Regions from separate parts of the Homo sapiens genome. Here all the other regions are reported to be linked to region 1. The links are microRNA targets in miRTarBase. Many come from high-throughput screens and were not tested one by one. Region 1 holds a microRNA gene; each other region holds the end of a gene's coding sequence.
The links. Region 1 holds the annotated microRNA hsa-miR-4723-5p (UGGGGGAGCCAUGAGAUAAGAGCA, at 1,560-1,583, opposite strand). A microRNA usually pairs through its seed, bases 2 to 8, with sites in the 3' UTR of a target mRNA and lowers its output. Matches are read on the target gene's strand: a 7mer-m8 pairs with bases 2 to 8, a 7mer-A1 pairs with bases 2 to 7 and ends in A, and an 8mer does both.

Region 2: miRTarBase lists MYH14 as a target of hsa-miR-4723-5p. Seed matches in the 3' UTR shown: 7mer-A1 at 2,177-2,183.
Region 3: the mRNA of ZNF562 is a reported target of hsa-miR-4723-5p. Seed matches in the 3' UTR shown: 7mer-m8 at 373-379.
Region 4: the mRNA of SALL2 is a reported target of hsa-miR-4723-5p. Seed matches in the 3' UTR shown: 7mer-m8 at 1,120-1,126.
Region 5: miRTarBase lists SPATA6 as a target of hsa-miR-4723-5p. Seed matches in the 3' UTR shown: 8mer at 1,540-1,547.

The regions. Positions count from the first base shown.
Region 1 is chr17:28,359,076-28,362,242 of GRCh38, reverse strand. It overlaps MIR4723 (microRNA 4723), which reads right to left and starts at 1,589; the gene lies at 1,509-1,589. VMA12 (vacuolar ATPase assembly factor VMA12) reads right to left here. Exons shown (of 6, transcript NM_152464.3): 3 at 2,839-2,928; 4 at 1,672-1,714; 5 at 1,396-1,508; 6 at 1-1,086. The coding sequence ends at 991.
Region 2 is chr19:50,309,318-50,312,484 of GRCh38, reverse strand. It overlaps MYH14 (myosin heavy chain 14), which reads right to left. Exons shown (of 43, transcript NM_001145809.2): 43 at 1,945-2,845. The coding sequence ends at 2,695. It overlaps KCNC3 (potassium voltage-gated channel subfamily C member 3), which reads left to right. Exons shown (of 5, transcript NM_004977.3): 5 at 1-548. Among named protein-coding and RNA genes, the nearest start is that of KCNC3, 18 kb to the left of the region's middle.
Region 3 is chr19:9,650,132-9,653,298 of GRCh38, forward strand. It overlaps ZNF562 (zinc finger protein 562), which reads right to left. Exons shown (of 6, transcript NM_001130031.2): 6 at 1-3,167. The coding sequence ends at 2,818. Among named protein-coding and RNA genes, the nearest start is that of ZNF562, 23 kb to the right of the region's middle.
Region 4 is chr14:21,520,106-21,523,105 of GRCh38, reverse strand. SALL2 (spalt like transcription factor 2) reads left to right here. Exons shown (of 2, transcript NM_001364564.1): 2 at 1-2,026. The coding sequence ends at 402. Among named protein-coding and RNA genes, the nearest start is that of SALL2, 4.7 kb to the left of the region's middle.
Region 5 is chr1:48,296,115-48,299,281 of GRCh38, reverse strand. SPATA6 (spermatogenesis associated 6) reads left to right here. Exons shown (of 13, transcript NM_019073.4): 13 at 389-3,167. The coding sequence ends at 569. Among named protein-coding and RNA genes, the nearest start is that of SLC5A9, 75 kb to the right of the region's middle.

The DNA.
Region 1 (3,167 bases):
CTGAGTGAATGAGTATATAATTTATGAAAACAGAAAAGTGCTTTGGAAAAAAAAAAAAAGACAACAGGAGTACATACAGTGAACCAAAAAGAGTGTACCAGGAGGAGCAGACCCTGAACAGTTAGAACTATGGAAATCGCTATGCTTTGTGTTGTCACAGGAGTTAAAATAGGAATACCCTGCATACAATAAATATTTATTGGATAAATAACTAAGCCTGATACCCTTTTCAATGCGTTATACAGACTCTATCATCACACCACTAATCTAAGTTCTCAGAAGTTAAACATTACAAGACTTCAGAACAACATAGGCGTCTTTGGCTCCATTTAACAGAAGAAGGACCATAGTGATCATTTAATCTCTATGAGTCTGTCTTATCTTCTGGAAAAGGGGCCTAACACCATTTCCTTTTGCAAAAAGGTAGCTGCCTTGCTTCCAGTTCTACCATCCTCTAGCAACCCATCTTTCTCTTATTTGATGTCTCTGATCAGCTCCTCTTCCAGCACAAACTGGAGAAAGGGGATCCTTTCTGTTTTCTTGGAGGCTTCTGAACTCAATTACAGGTCTGCATTAAAAATGTATGGAGAAAGCTGGTGATCAGTTTGTACATATGGACAAGTTCAAGGCAGTATGGTCTACTTCTGGGAAGGCCTGGATTCCATTTGCTCCTGATGGAAAAACCCTAGTCCCAGCAGTGTTTAGAATGAACTGGAGAAGGCAGATGGGTACCAGATTCAGGAAGAGGTACTGATAGACCAAGACCAGTTCTTTCTGTTTTAAAGATGTGTTATCTCAATCTCCTCCAATGCTCCCTTTGGAAATTCACAGAAGATTAGGGCTCCCCACAGAAACAGCAGCTGGCCTGGGCTGGTCTTCTGACTAACTGGAGCTGAATACAAAAAGTCTGATGGGTTGACTGAGTCGGTGACTGCCAATTGGAGCCTGAAGCCCCCAAAGTCTTCTCTAGACTTGATGATGAAGCACCAGTTACAGTTCTCCCAGCTCGCCTTCCATTGCCCGCACCATGACATACAGCTCGGCCAGACCCACCACAGAGGCGACGATCAATGCAGCTAGCACCCGCTGGAGATGGGGAGAACCAGGCTTAAGGGATGCAGGCCAACAACCAGCTCTGTACCCCAGCAACTTTAATGAGGATGGAGAGCCCCCCAACCACCCTCTAAGTTGGGGGAGGGGAAGAAAAGAGAATGTGGCTTCTCCTGGGGTTATTACCTAACCTCCCGTGACTGCTGGAAAGCTCTAATGCTCCCCTTATTAATGGCATAAATATCTGTTCAATACCTAACCTGTGCAAGGCACTTTCACATACGTCCTCCCTTACCCACTAACACCCCCACCAGGGGCACCCTGCCCTGCCCAGTGCCTACTCACCGAGGCCATTTCTGTGAAGATATATTGGCTTCCAAGGTAAGTGCAGACGAAGGCAGCAACCACCGTGACAATGAAATTGAAGATGGTGATGACCAGAGCCTTCAATGATCTCACTTTGGGGAGGAGCCAGAGAGGGCACCTTTAGTTCAACATTCTCTAGGAGGTGCTCTTATCTCATGGCTCCCCCACCAACTGGGTTTCAGTCAAACAACAAGCCTGAGTGTCATGACCCATCTCAGGAAAAGGTTTTAGAAGCCTGATCTCCTAGTACCTCACCTTGCTTTCCCAGGTCGCTGAGAGTCCCACCATGTCTTGTATCCTGGGAAAAAGAAAAAGAAGATGATTCAGAATAGAAGCAGCTCAGAGAGCATCCATTGACAGTCTGGCTCAGCCCTCTCTATTCCCCAACATATTAACTCTGCCCTCCCCATGGATTCTTTTGTCTGGAACCATTTTGACTCTTTTCTGGACTACAGAGCAGGCATTTCGGAGAGAGGACATAGGCTGCCAGTACCCATCTACTCTCCTGTTCCAGGGTAGGAGCATGCCATAGAGTAGTAGGGAGCCCTGTCAGAAGAAATGCTCGAATGGCTGGGCACAGTGGCTCACCTTGTAATCCCAGCACTTTGGGAGGCCGAGGCAGGAGGATCACCTTGAGGCTGGGAGTTCAAGACCAGCCTGGCCAACGTGGTCTCTACTAAAAATACAAAAAATTAGCCTGGCGTGGTGGTGCATGCCTGTAATCCCAGCTACTTGGGAGGCTGAGGCATAAGAATCACTTAAACCTGGAAGGCGGAGGCCGCAGTGAGCAGAGATCCTGCCACTGCCCTCCAGCCTGGGTGACAGAGTGAGACTCCATCTCAAAAAAAAAAAAGAAGAAGAAAAAAAGCCTCCAAGATTCATTCCCACTTATTTATTTATTTATTTATTTATTTTGAGATGGAGTCTTGCTCTTGTTGCTCAGGCTGGAGTGCAATGGTGCAGTGTTGGCTCACAGCAGCCTCTGCCTCCGCCTCCTGGGTTCAAGTGATTCTCCTGCCTCAGCCTCTCGAGTAGCTGGGATTACAGGTGCCCGCCACCACGCCAGGCTAAGTTTTGTATTTTTTGTAAAGACGGGGTTTCACCATGTTGGCCAGGCTGGTCACGAACTCCCGACCTCAAGTGATCCACCTACCTCAGCCTCCCAAAGTGCTAGGATTACAGGCATGAGCGCCGTGCCCGGCTAACTCCCACTTCTATGACGTTTAAAACTTGGTCACCATCTCAGCCCAGAGTCTCAGTGAATGAGATGGGAACTGTGTTGTTTGTATGCAGACTTCCTATGGTCCCTGAACAGTATAGAAACCAAGTTTCCATGTTTTTTCTAAACTCTGTATCTTCTTCCACTGCAGGGCCCTACTCTGAGGGGCTACCTAGACCACGTACTGAAGAGCATGTCCTTACCTGACAAGTGACGTTGCGGGTGATCCGTTTATATTCCTCATTGGCCAGCTGTATCTTAATCTTCTCCAGCCGGGCAACTAGTTCTGGGTTCTGAAGCAGAAAAATCAAATGAGAAGAATGATATTCCCAGCTTGTTAGAAAGCACATCACAATCATTGGTTCCAGGGGTAAAGCACTGCTAAAGGTATCAGGAGACCCACATACTAGTCGTAACTCCAGTGCTTTGAAACTGTTTTTTTTTTTTTTGATCTCAATTTTCCAAACAGCTGATGGGGAGGACAATATCTGGCTCCCCCAGATCCCAAAGATTTCAAAAACAATTTTTCAAG
Region 2 (3,167 bases), not on the chromosome of region 1:
GTGCCTGCACCTACACGCATGCGCTGCATGACGCGCCCCCCACACGCATGTCGCACCCCTCCTGCGCTCCGGGAACGCACGGACACGGGCCAGGGGGCGGGGCGATTGGGGAGGAATGAATGGCGGGGGGTCTTCCTGAGCTCCGCGGCTCACCCTCCCCAACACACACACACACACACACAGAGCAATAAGTTTCTCTCACTCAAATGTGGGCGGGGCGGGCCTAGCCTGTCGCTGGTGGGGGGAGTGGTGAGGGGGCGCTCTCAGGGATGGGGGCGGGGTTCGGAGACAGTGTGGGGAGGGGAGGTCTGCAAATCGTCCAACTCTGGTGCTAATGGCGGGTCTTCTCAGCCCACCCGCAGGGCAGGGAGGGAGGGGTCGGCGTGGCCCCTTCCCCAAGCCTCCCCCACGCCCACCCTGGGTGCATGAACCGCCCAATGCAGAAGCTGCCGCATGTCACCCCCCTCTCCCCAAAGAAAAAGTGTCATGCCCCCTTCCCACCCACCCTCACTCCCCACCAAAATAAACGTTTCCTTTTCATTTAAAAATGGCCTCCTGTGTGCCTGTTCGGAAAGTCTCCTGATTGCGGCTGGGGCGCACAGAGGGATTGGGACTTCTAGAGTGGGGCCCTATTGCTGGGCACAGTGGCTCAGGCCAGTAATCCAAGCACTTTGGGAGGCCAAGGACGCAGGAAGATCGCTTGAGGCCAGGAGTTCAAGACCAGGCTGGGCAACACAAGAGAGACCCTGTCTTTACAAAAAATAAAATAAAATTAGCCAGGTGTGGTGGCATCTGTAGTCCCAGCTACTCTGGAGGCTGAGGCGAGAGGATCGCTTGAGCCTGGGAGGTCGAGGCTGCAGGGAGCTATGATTGTGCCACCGCACTCCAGCCTGGGTGACAGAGTGAGACCCTTTCTCAATTTTTTAAAAAAGGGGAGGATGGGCTTTGGTGATCGTGACATCTGCTCCACGGCTTGCACCTTATTTAGGGCAAGCACCTGCCTCAGTTTCCCTGATAGTAAAAATGGGGATCCACACCTCTAACTGAAAAGTCACTGAGGACTCAGTCTGACGAACGTGAGCCCCCACACGAGGGTGCCTAGTTCCCACGAGAGAGACAGACCTGGGTCCCCAAGGTGGGGTCAGGGGCTGAGGGCTCAGCCTCTATATGTGCTGACTCTGAGGCCAGACTGTCTGGGTTCAAACTGTTTCAACTTCTTAGTAGCTGTGTGTCCTTGGGCAAGTCACTCAGCCTCTCTGAGCCTGTTTCCACCACTCTAAAAGGGTGGGAGGGGCATCACTTAGTTATTCAGCAAATATTGAGTGAATGCCTGCTGTGTGCCAGACACTGTTCTAGGCACTGGAGTGCAATGAAATCTCTACCTGTAGTGCTATGTAAGGGTTAAGATAAACTGTGTGCTTAGCACAGCACGCAGCACAAACGACCACGGCTGTCTTTTTGTTTTGTTTTGCTTTTGGGACAGGATCTCACTCTTCACCCATGCTACAGTGCAGTGATGCAATCATAGCTCACTGCAGCCTCCACCCCCTGGGCTCAAGTGATCCTCCCACCTCAGCCTCCCGAAGCACTGGGATCACAGGTATGAGCCACTGCAGCAGGCCTGTCATTTATTTTGCAAAACTTAAGAGTTGGCCCGAGTGCAACACCCCTTCTAGCACTCACTGGGGGCGTGGAGTGAGGGATGCTGCTGCTCTGAGACTGTTCCCTCATCTGTATAATGCAGGGAATATTTCCATTATACACTGGAGTCAGGAGGAAAGGAGTTATGAAGCGCCTGATCCACAGGATGTCCCTGTATACCCACGCAGGTGTCATTCTAACCAGCAGGCTGCCTGACCTGCTGCCCTAGCAGGCTGAAGCAGCCTGTGCCCATCCTGCCCCATCAGAGACCCCCTGCAGGAACACACACAGCCACAGAGATGGTCCAGTCGGGTTGGAGTTTATTTCTGCCAGAGCCTGGAGGCTGGGAGGGTAAAGGACACTCCTTTAGTCCCAGAGGGAAGCTCCGAACCCTCAGAGCAACCAGAAGGGAGGGCAGAGCATGGGCAGCAGCAGGAGTGAGAGGGGTCCCCTTGTCCTGCCCCTTTGCAAGGGTTCAAGGCTGGTGGAGGCCTGGGGCTTCTGTCGCTCAGGAGTTCAGGGGTGGACGCAGAAATGGGGGAAGGAGAGTGGCTACGTAGAGAGTGAGAGCGAGATTCCTAAAAAGATGCACAGAGAGACCCTCAGAGAGGCCAAGAAAGATGGTGAGAGGGTAGGGAAGGAGAGGGAGGGAGAGAGAGAGAGAGAGAGAGAAGCAGAGGGAATGGGTTGCACTGGCTGAGGATGGTGGAGGAGCCGTCTCACTCCCTTCCTAATGTCTATAGATCAATAACGAGGGAAGAAAGGAGGACAGGGAGCTGATGGAAACACAGCTTGCCAACTGTACCCAGTCCCCCAACAAGCAAGGTAGCTCCAGTCATTGCCTCCCTGCCTGCCCCGCTCCTCTGTGTTTAGGGGTCATCCTTTGATGGGAGGTTGCAGGGGACCCAGGTGGGGGTGATAAATGCCAGAGTGCTGCACCATTTCCAAAGGGCAAGAAGTCAGAGGGCGGGGTTCCTGGGACAGGGGCCCGTGGGGTCCAGGGAGGAAGGGGGCTGGGCCCCATCTGTTAGTGCATCTGGGGACAGGGTAGGGTCACTGGGGGTGGGCTGGTGGGGACCCCTCAGGCTCCGGGGATGGCCCAGACCCAGGCTGTGCTTCCTCTGCCTCCTCGTCGGATGCCACGCCCTCCTCTAGTCGGAAGACCTGGCGCACCGTGCGGGTGGTGAAGGTGAGGGGGCCGCGTCTGTGGGGAGGAGAGACCAGGATACAGAGATGAAATGAGGGGAGGGGAGGGGAGGAGAAAGGGGGAGGAGAGAGAGAGATGAGGGGGAGAGAGAGAGAGATAGGAAGAGAGAGAACAAAATAAGGGGGAAGAGAGGGATGAGATCAAGAGAAATGGAGGGAGACGGGCAGAAGCAATGGGGGGCAGAGAGAGATGAAGGACACACAGAGAGGAGGAAAGGAGAGAAAGGTGGTGGTGCACGGTGGGAAAGGAGGGCACAGAGATGACAGGGAGAAATGGGTGTGGGAAGAAAGAAGTTACCTGGATTTGGCTCTCCCGCAAC
Region 3 (3,167 bases), not on the chromosome of region 1:
CAGAACTGCAAAGACAAGTATGCTGGTATTACTACTTTTAGTTGGTGTTGTGCAGCGGGTTAAAATCAGTCCAGTAAAGCAAGAAAATATTTAGAGAGAGCTTCATCATCATACGAATTTTGGGGGTCATTGTTCAGTCCAAAGTACTTAATATGATTCTTTTCTCTTTCCACATAGAGAATCAGATAATCTATAAATAATGACTCTTACTGTTCCACTTTAGGAGTTAGGTATACATACATATGTGTATATATATGTATATATATATACACATACACACACACACACACACACACACAGTGACCCCCCAAATTTCATATGAAGTTCCAAACCTCAATGTGACTGTATGTGAAAAGAGAAGGGGGCGGGGAGGGGGGAGACCGACCGACCTATTTGTTGGTCTCCATCGTGTGAAAACATGAGGAAGTGGGCACTTACATGCCAGGAAGAGAGCTCTCACTAGAGGTTGACCATGCTGGCACTCTGATCTCAGACTTCCAGCCTCCAGATATGTGAGAATATAAATTTGTGTTTTGGGCCAGATACGGTGGCTCAGGCCTGTAATCCCAGCACTTTGGGAGGCCAAGGCAGGTGGATCACCAAAGGTCAGATCTGACCAACATGGAGATCAGCCTAACCAACATGGAGAAACCCTGTCTCTACTAAAAATACAAACTTAGCTAAGGTTTGTGGTGCATGCCAATAATCCCAGCTACTGAGGGTGAGGCAGGAGAATCACTGGAACTCAGGAGGTGGAGGTTGCGGTGAGCCAAGATCATACCATTGCACTCCAGCCTGGGCAACAAGAGCAAAACTCCATCTCAAAAAAAAAAAAAAAAAAAAAAAAAAAATCCTGTGTTTTTAACCTCATTGATTTAAAATTAAATTAATTTCTAAGCCATTTGGTCTGCGGTATTCTCTTATGGTTGTCTGAGCTGACTAAGGCAGATATTGGTACTGAGAAGTGAGGTACTGCAATTAAAAACAAACAAAAAAACTAAAAATGTGAAGCAGCTTTGAAACTGACAAATGAGTAGAGGCTGGAAAAATTCTGATGTGCAAGCTGGAAATAAGGTTGGTAAGGGTTATTCTGGTGAGGTGTCATTGGGGAATGAGGAACATGCTATTGGGAAATGAAGAAAAGACAACCCTTGATATAAAGTGGTGAAGAACTTGGCAGAACTGTATTCTAGCATTTTACGGAAGGTAGAGCTTGAGACAGATAAAATGGTATGTATCACTAAGATCTGTAATTAAAGTGTTAAAGGACACAGGAAGCTTCATTATTCCTGAGTGCTTACAGGAAAATGTGCTGGGAACAGGCCCCCCAAATCTGGCCATAAACAGGCAATGAGAAACTGGCCATAAACAAAATCTCTGCAGCACTGTGACATGCTCGTGATGGCTATGACGCCCATGCTGGAGGCTGCTGGTTTACCAGAATGAGGGCAAGCAACACCTGGCCCACCCAGGGCAGAAAACTGGAAAACTGCTCAAGGCATTCCTAAACCACAAACAATAGCATGAGTGATTTGTGCCTTAAGGACATATTCCTGTTGCAGATAACAAGCCAGAGCCTGTCCCTTTCTTTCTCATAAGGAATACTTATAGCTGATCTACAATCTATAGGAATAATGTTTATCACAGGCTTACTGTCAATAAATATGTGGGTCAAACTCTGTTCAAGCTCAGCTCTGAAGGCTGTGAGCCCCGATTCCCACTCTGCACTATATTTCTGTGTCTTTGTCTTAATTCCTCTAGAGCCACTGGGTTAGGGTCTCCACGACCCAGCTGGTCTCGGCAAAAATGCAAAAGGAGACCTGAATTGCAGAAGAAATTGTTAAGGAAAAAGGAACCAGAACTTGGAGATTTGGAAAATTCTCAGCCTATCCATACTGCAAAAATTAGAAAACTTGTACTGAAGAGAATCCTCAAAGTGTGGCTGAACAATCATTTGATAAAGAGATCATGAGTGGGATTCATGGACTATATCAGCCATCTTAACAGAAGTGAGAAGAGAGACTGGATTATACTATAAGAGACACTGCCACTTACATTGTGCCACCTAAAATGGACAGAGAAGACAGAACAGAACAGTCAAGGTTGTCACACTTCTTATTTTACAAGAAGGGGACATAGAAATAATCAGCTGTGAAAGGGCACTGGCAGTTATGGATGGTTTCACTCCTGACATGCTCTGCAGGATCCATGGGAACAGAAGAGAACCTTGGAGGAGCATCTTTTTAACAATCCACCTCTGGGGCCTACATCATCTTGGCTTCTGGTAAATTTTGACATGAATGTGCCACACTGGCAGCCACTAACCAACAGGGGCTGGGATCAATCTGCATGATTTATCTCGTACAGAACTTGTTAATGCTATGATCTTAGGAATCTAATCACCAAGGTGAGGCAGCCTGCAGTACTGACCTCACCATCCATGACCCTTCTTCACAGATGCCCAGACTCAGGTAACCATGATGTTGTATTCAGAACCTGTAGGTTTAATTTCAGACCCTCGGGATGCATCTAAGGCCAATCTGTGAGCCATTACAACCTCCAAAAGGCATTTAGGACTAATCTGATGATCTTTGCACTGCCAATAATTAAAGATGGCAACCAATGGGCTAAATGGTAACAACACTCATATCCTTACATTCATAGTATTTCTCCCCAGTGTGAATTCTTTCATGCATACTTAGGCATGAGGAAAGAGCAAATGCTTTCCCAAATTCTTTACATACAAAAGGTTTCTCTCTGGTAGGAGTTCACAGGTGGGGTGAGGAATACAGAAATTCTTTCCCACATATCTTGCATTTACCTTTCTCCACTGTGAGTTTTCAAATGTTTACTACGATGGGAAGAAGTAATGAAGGTCTTCCCACATTCAACACATTCATAAGGCTTCTCTCCTGTGTGAATTCTTCTATGTTGAGTAAGCGTTGAAGATCTATTGAAGGCTTTCCCACATTCCTTACACTGATAGGGTTTCTCTCCAGTGTGATTTCGTATGTGTATAGCAAGGCCCGTGTACTGAGTGAAGGCTTGGCCACATTCCTTACATTCATAGGGTTTTATTCCAGTGTGAGTTCTTACATGTTGAGTAAGGTGAGTTGATCTAGTGAAGGCTTTCCCACATTCCGTACATTTGTGTGGTTTTATTCCAG
Region 4 (3,000 bases), not on the chromosome of region 1:
CCGGCATCAGCACTCACCCCAGAAGGGGAAGCCACCAGCGTGACCTTGGTAGAGGAGCTGAGCCTGCAGGAGGCAATGAGAAAGGAGCCAGGAGAGAGCAGCAGCAGAAAGGCCTGCGAAGTGTGTGGCCAGGCCTTTCCCTCCCAGGCAGCTCTGGAGGAGCATCAGAAGACCCACCCCAAGGAGGGGCCGCTCTTCACTTGTGTTTTCTGCAGGCAGGGCTTTCTTGAGCGGGCTACCCTCAAGAAGCATATGCTCCTGGCACACCACCAGGTACAGCCCTTTGCCCCCCATGGCCCTCAGAATATTGCTGCTCTTTCTCTAGTCCCTGGCTGTTCGCCTTCCATCACCTCCACAGGGCTCTCCCCCTTTCCCCGAAAAGATGACCCCACGATCCCATGAGCCTGTTTTTCTGTACCTGCTGCTCTTTGTCCCACAGAGCAGAAACAGCTTCACAAAAGGACCTCCCAGAGTTATGAGCCCTGATTTTGTCTTTTTCTCTAAGTTCTTAACATGTTATGTCCCTAGTGGCTTTTCTGTAGTCCCTGAGCTTGGAAATTACTGTGCTTACAAGGGGATGGCCCCCTAAGGAATTTTTCTTCCCTCCTCATTCTTTGTACCTGAGGAACATAGATTCTCTGCAGCTTTCTCAAGGGGAACCCTCTCCAGCTTCCCTGGTGTGACCCTTCTTCCCCCTCCTCTCTCCTCTCCCTTTCCCTTTGGTAGGTGCACCTGAGCACCTACATTTGGCATTGCAGCCTAGCCAAAAAGGGCTGGCAGCTGTCTCTGGAGGGCCCAGTGCCACTCCTCTGGGGTGACCTTTCTGCTCAGCTGGTGGGTATGGGTCCCCTATCTTTCTAGAACCAGTATGTGGCATTCCTGTCAAATGGCCTGCCCATGAAGCCCTGGAATTCCAGCTCCACCTCCACTACCACTCCAAGCCTGGCCCCACCAGTGCTGTTTGGCCTAGGAACTGTGGCTGGGAAGGTGCCTCCAACAATGGGATCCAGGGAAGCCAAGGAGAAGACAGCCCCCCTCCTATTTCAGCCTCCTGCACCCAAGGCAGTGCCTGAGAAGCCCATCATAGACAAGAAGTAGCAAACTGTACATTCCTTCTTCCTCCCCCTGCTCCAGAAGGTGCCGGTACTGAAGATGCTCCAGTAATTGGTGACCCAACCCTAGGAAGTAGGGAGAAATGAAGGAAGGGCATAGGAAAATTTTCCCAGTAAATCCCCTGATGGTCACATTAAGGTAAAGGTTTTGGCTGGTCAGTGTGCCAAGACCTCTCCAGCTTCTCATTCATGATGACCTCTCAAAGTTGGGAAACAAGCTGATTTCTTGCCAAGAGGTCTCCCAGGAGATATTTGGGAAATGTGAAGTTCGTATCTTTAAGGAGCATTTTTGGTCAGCATGGTTGATGAACTAATGATGAGAGAGTTAAGGAATGTTGCTAGAACATAGGGCTTGCTGGTACCTATGTGACTAAGAAAGGGACATGATGTAAGGGAAAAGGCCTCAAATTCTTGTGAATGTCTGGACATTCTCGTTAATATTCTTTTGGGCTAATAGTGACATAGTGTGCAGAGGTGTACCAGGGATCATGGGGGATTTCCTAGCACTAGTATGCTTCTAGTTTTAGATAACTCCCTCCTTTATTCCCTGGCCCCTTGTATTTTCCTTATCTTCCTCTTTCAAGACCCCTACCCATTTTGCCTATCCGTAGGCTGGGGCTTGTGTCTTTGTCATTGTCTGGTTCTTAAGAGTCCCAGACTTTGGGAGACCAGCTCCAGGTGGCGTCCTCCCTGCCTCTCCGTCTTGTAATGAGTTGTAGTATTTACTCTTAACATAGGATCATTTGGAACAGGAGTTCTGAGGAGGAGAGAGTGAGGGTTTTGCTATTGACTGACTTGAACGATGGCTTCTCCTCAAGCTGTAGGCTCCAGAGCTTCCTAACCTAGTAAAATGTCAAGAACAGACGGGAGATATTAGTGTCTTTCCCTCTATCATTAAAGGTGTTTTAACCAAATATTTATGTGTTTCTCCTTATTTCATGATTACATAGCCAGCTGGGGTGTGATATGGGCATTCCCCAAAATTGAGATTCCCTTCCCACCTACATCTCCTGCCAAAGCTGAACATATGGTGTTGAAATATTTACTTTATTCAGCCTTGTCCTAAGACAACCTTCAGTTAATGTAACTTCTCTGTGGAAATTGTTCCCTGTGGAGTTTGTATTTCCAAAAGGTAGGCATTTGCCCACTGTGTCCAGTCATTGTCTAGATTTTCTCTACCTAGAACCTTCCACCACCAGGCTTTTCTGTGGGTTTTGTTTGGAGGTTGGAAACTGTTTCTTTTCCGTCTTTCTCAAACCACAGATCAGCCTTCTGACATCAGCGAATCTGTAGAACCAAGGTGAATTAAACTTTATGATCCTTGAGATCTGATGTCATAATCAGAAAGAAAAAAATGTAATTCAACCCTAATAATTTCTACCAACAAGACAAAGGAGGATTCTTATCATTAGGAATTCAGAGGAAGCACATAGGGGTGGGGTCAAATAAAACATATATTTTTTTTTCCCTGTCACAATGGCTCACGTCTGTAACTTCAACAGTTTGGGAGGTCAAGACAGGCCTATTGCTTGAGCCCAGGAGTTTGAGACCAGCCTGGGCAACATGGCAAAACACTGCCTCTTCCAAAAATACAAAAATTAGCTGGATGTGGTGGTGCACACCTATGGTCCCAGCTAATCAGGAGTCTGAGGTGGGAGGATTACCTGAGTCCAAGGAGACTGATTTGTAAGATTATAATATCATTGACTCTTAGTGCTAAAGGGATGGAACTGGTAAAATGATTTGCCCAAAGTCACTCAGTGGCAAAGTTGGATTAAGAACCCAGGTAGGGCCAGCCACAGTGATTCACGCCTATAATACCAGCGCTTTGGAAGGCCAATGCGGGTGGGATCGCTGGAGCCCAGGAGTTCAAGACATGCCTGGAAAA
Region 5 (3,167 bases), not on the chromosome of region 1:
TCAGCCTCCCAAAGTGCTGGGATTATAGGCGTGAGCCACTGTGCCTTGGGCTGTGCATTCTTATACTGGCCATACCAGGCCAGTATAAGAACTGCTTTTATTATGTTCTGCTTTTATTATGCTGTACCTGTGTCTGTTCTCTGAATTCCTTTTTCACTCTAACACAAAATTTTCATTTTACTGTTTTATAACAGTTTTACACAGATACTTCTGCCTCCCCTTTTAAAATGTCCCTCTTTGAAAGCACAGGCCTTACTCTGTTTTATTTTTCACAGCCCCAGCAGAGAATTAAATAGCCATAGAGTACTCAATAAATATTTGATTTACATAGTACTATCTCTAATTTTGTTTCATTATTGTTTTGAACCTTTTATATCCCTTTTTATAGCTCATGTCAGCAGCCACGTGGCACTTTCCATTTGGATGACGGTGAATACTGGTCCAACAGGGCAGCCTCTTATAAGGGAAAATCCCACCGACCCATCTTTGAGAACAGCATGGACAAGATGTACAGGAACTTATACAAAAAGGCCTGTAGTTCTGCTTCACATACACAGGAAAGCTTCTGAGACCATCCATGATAAACCTCATTAGTGTCCGTGTCAATTTCTCAATGAAAATGTTTGATGTGATCAATATCTGTATTCCTTTTTTTAAAAAAAATGGGATTATAACTAAGTACAATAGTTATACTTGAATAAGTTCATTACTTCAAATGGTAAATTATCATAGGCAAGCCTTTTAAAATAATTATTACAGAAGAGTCTGCTGTGTTACAAACATTAGAGCTCTGTCACACAATCACAACTTCCAATATGTGACAAGGATATTCTGTTACATGTACACCTCATATTCCATCTGCAAATCCAAGAATAGTTCCTTTCTAGAAATGTTTTTTTTGCCTTACTCACCTTGCAATTTTCTTCTCATCTACTTAACTGGTTATCTTGCCTGTGTAAGATTTAATTAATATTGACTACCTTTTCTTGGTGATGAACAAAATGATATCCTATACAGAAATGAATTTCCTAAGGGTTTAAACCCTGTTTTCACTAACATTTTCTACTTTTTCCTTTTTCAGAACAGGCTATTCTATTTCTTAGCTCATAGGCTTTCTTTTTAAAGACTATATGATCATTCACTCCTTTTTCTCTGGAAGAACTGTGTAAGTTGCTTAAAATGCATAGCAGTTAGCTAGAAATATCAGTGCCATGGATGATCAAAAATTTGAATAACTAATTTTTAAAGATAAAATTCTTTGCATGATTTTTTTTCTAGGGCCATACCTTTTGGTGCAACCAGAATCAGAAAATGGCCTCTGTTAGTAAGCTTATAGAAACCTAAAAATAATAATGGAATTATATTGTAATTTGACTGCTTGGAATTTGTGTAAGTACCATATGGCCCAAGGCACTATTATAGTATCCTCACTTTAAAAAAAAAAACACTTGGAACCACAATGTGAGTAAAATATTATAGCAGAACGCTTTGTGGTAGACACTGAAAATGTTGTTGATTGATGGATAGAATTAACTTCTCCTCCCCCACCCCAGCACACACCTGTGAAGCCAATGATACTATAAAGACATAAAGAAATCAGCTACTTTATATTTAATAGAGAGTGAGGGGAGGGAAAGGAGAGTGTAGGAATAAGTGAACTGGGCTTATAGTCTTGAAGAGTTGCCTAAAAGATAATATTTTCTCATTGACTCTGTTTTTGATTAATTTTACAGTTATGATTGAAAAAGAACAAAATGAACTTCCTTTAAAATGAAATTAAAATGTGAAACTTGCTGACTTATTTTTGTAGTAGAACTTGTTAACATCATGTTAAGGGTGCTTTAGTATCACAGTCTGTGATATATCAGAAAGGGCATTAGAGCTATCTCTATGAGCCAGGAGTCCTAGGCTTTAGTATCCCATGTCTGCCGTTTTCTAGCTGAGTCTATTTAATTCTCAGATCCTTTGTTTCCTCAGCTATCAAATGATAAGAATGTAGTAGACCCCAAACTATGTTCTGTGGACCAAGATCACTGTTTTAGGAGATAATCGTAGGAATGTAGGTATAAGTATGTAATTGGCCATCTAAGTTTAGGAAAATCTGTTTGCTACACACATACACACACACACACACACACACACACACACACACACACCTCTTAGAGAGTCATATGTAGGATTATAGAGGTAAAAAGAGATGATATTAATGCTGGAATAGCGCCTGTAAACTGGGGCTGTCTACAGCAAATTAGGATATATGGTCACTGTGCTCATTGTGAACAGTAGCTTGTTCGAGGCTTTAAGAAAATTCTGGTATAAATCTGTCTTACTCTGCATCTAGTAGACAGCCTGGCATGTAATTGATGTTCCTTAAATATTTATCGAATTAACCCAGAATTTTCTAAACTAAATTTAGCATGTACCACTATTTGTTATTCTTGCCACCACCCCCCATTCCCCTAGCTCCTCACACTACCTGCCAATGTCATCCTAAGGTACATGTGGATACCTAGGTTGTAGAAATGCTGGACTACACAATTGCTGAGTTACTCTCTGGCTGTAGATTATATGATGAGGTATTTTACAATCAGCTTTTGAAGGTCAACATTGAATAATGCTCTTTTAAAAAAATTATATCCTCAGTGTTTTTCCATGGAAAAATAAGTGAAAATTCTTTTAAGAGTTGCTGTTTGGTGAAAAGAACAAACATGACTTTCAAAGAAAATGTTTTACTATCACCAAAATCTCCCAAGTGAATAAGTACCACAGAAATTACTTATTGCACCTGTATCTGCCATTGGCTGTGAAAAAGGCTGCAAAAAGTAGGGCTGAAAGGGAAACTTTAGAAACTAATACTCTGAAAGATGTTTTCCTATGGATTAAATTTAGTGTCTTTCTGAAAGTTGGGGGCAAATTCCCAGATACTAATAGCATCTTTGCTAAGTGTCTGATTATCTTCTATCCCCTAGGAGGAAAGAGTGGTCCATGTTGCTGTAACTACTACTATGAGTGCTTATGCTGTATTGTTTTTAAAGAGTAAAACCTTTAAGTACTAATAGTTGTCTTTTCTCATTCACAGGAGCAGAAAGGTGCAGTTGTTTATTCTCTTAGCCTTTTTTTTTTCCTGTATTTCCCACAAATCTAGAAATAATTATTGGAGTTAATAT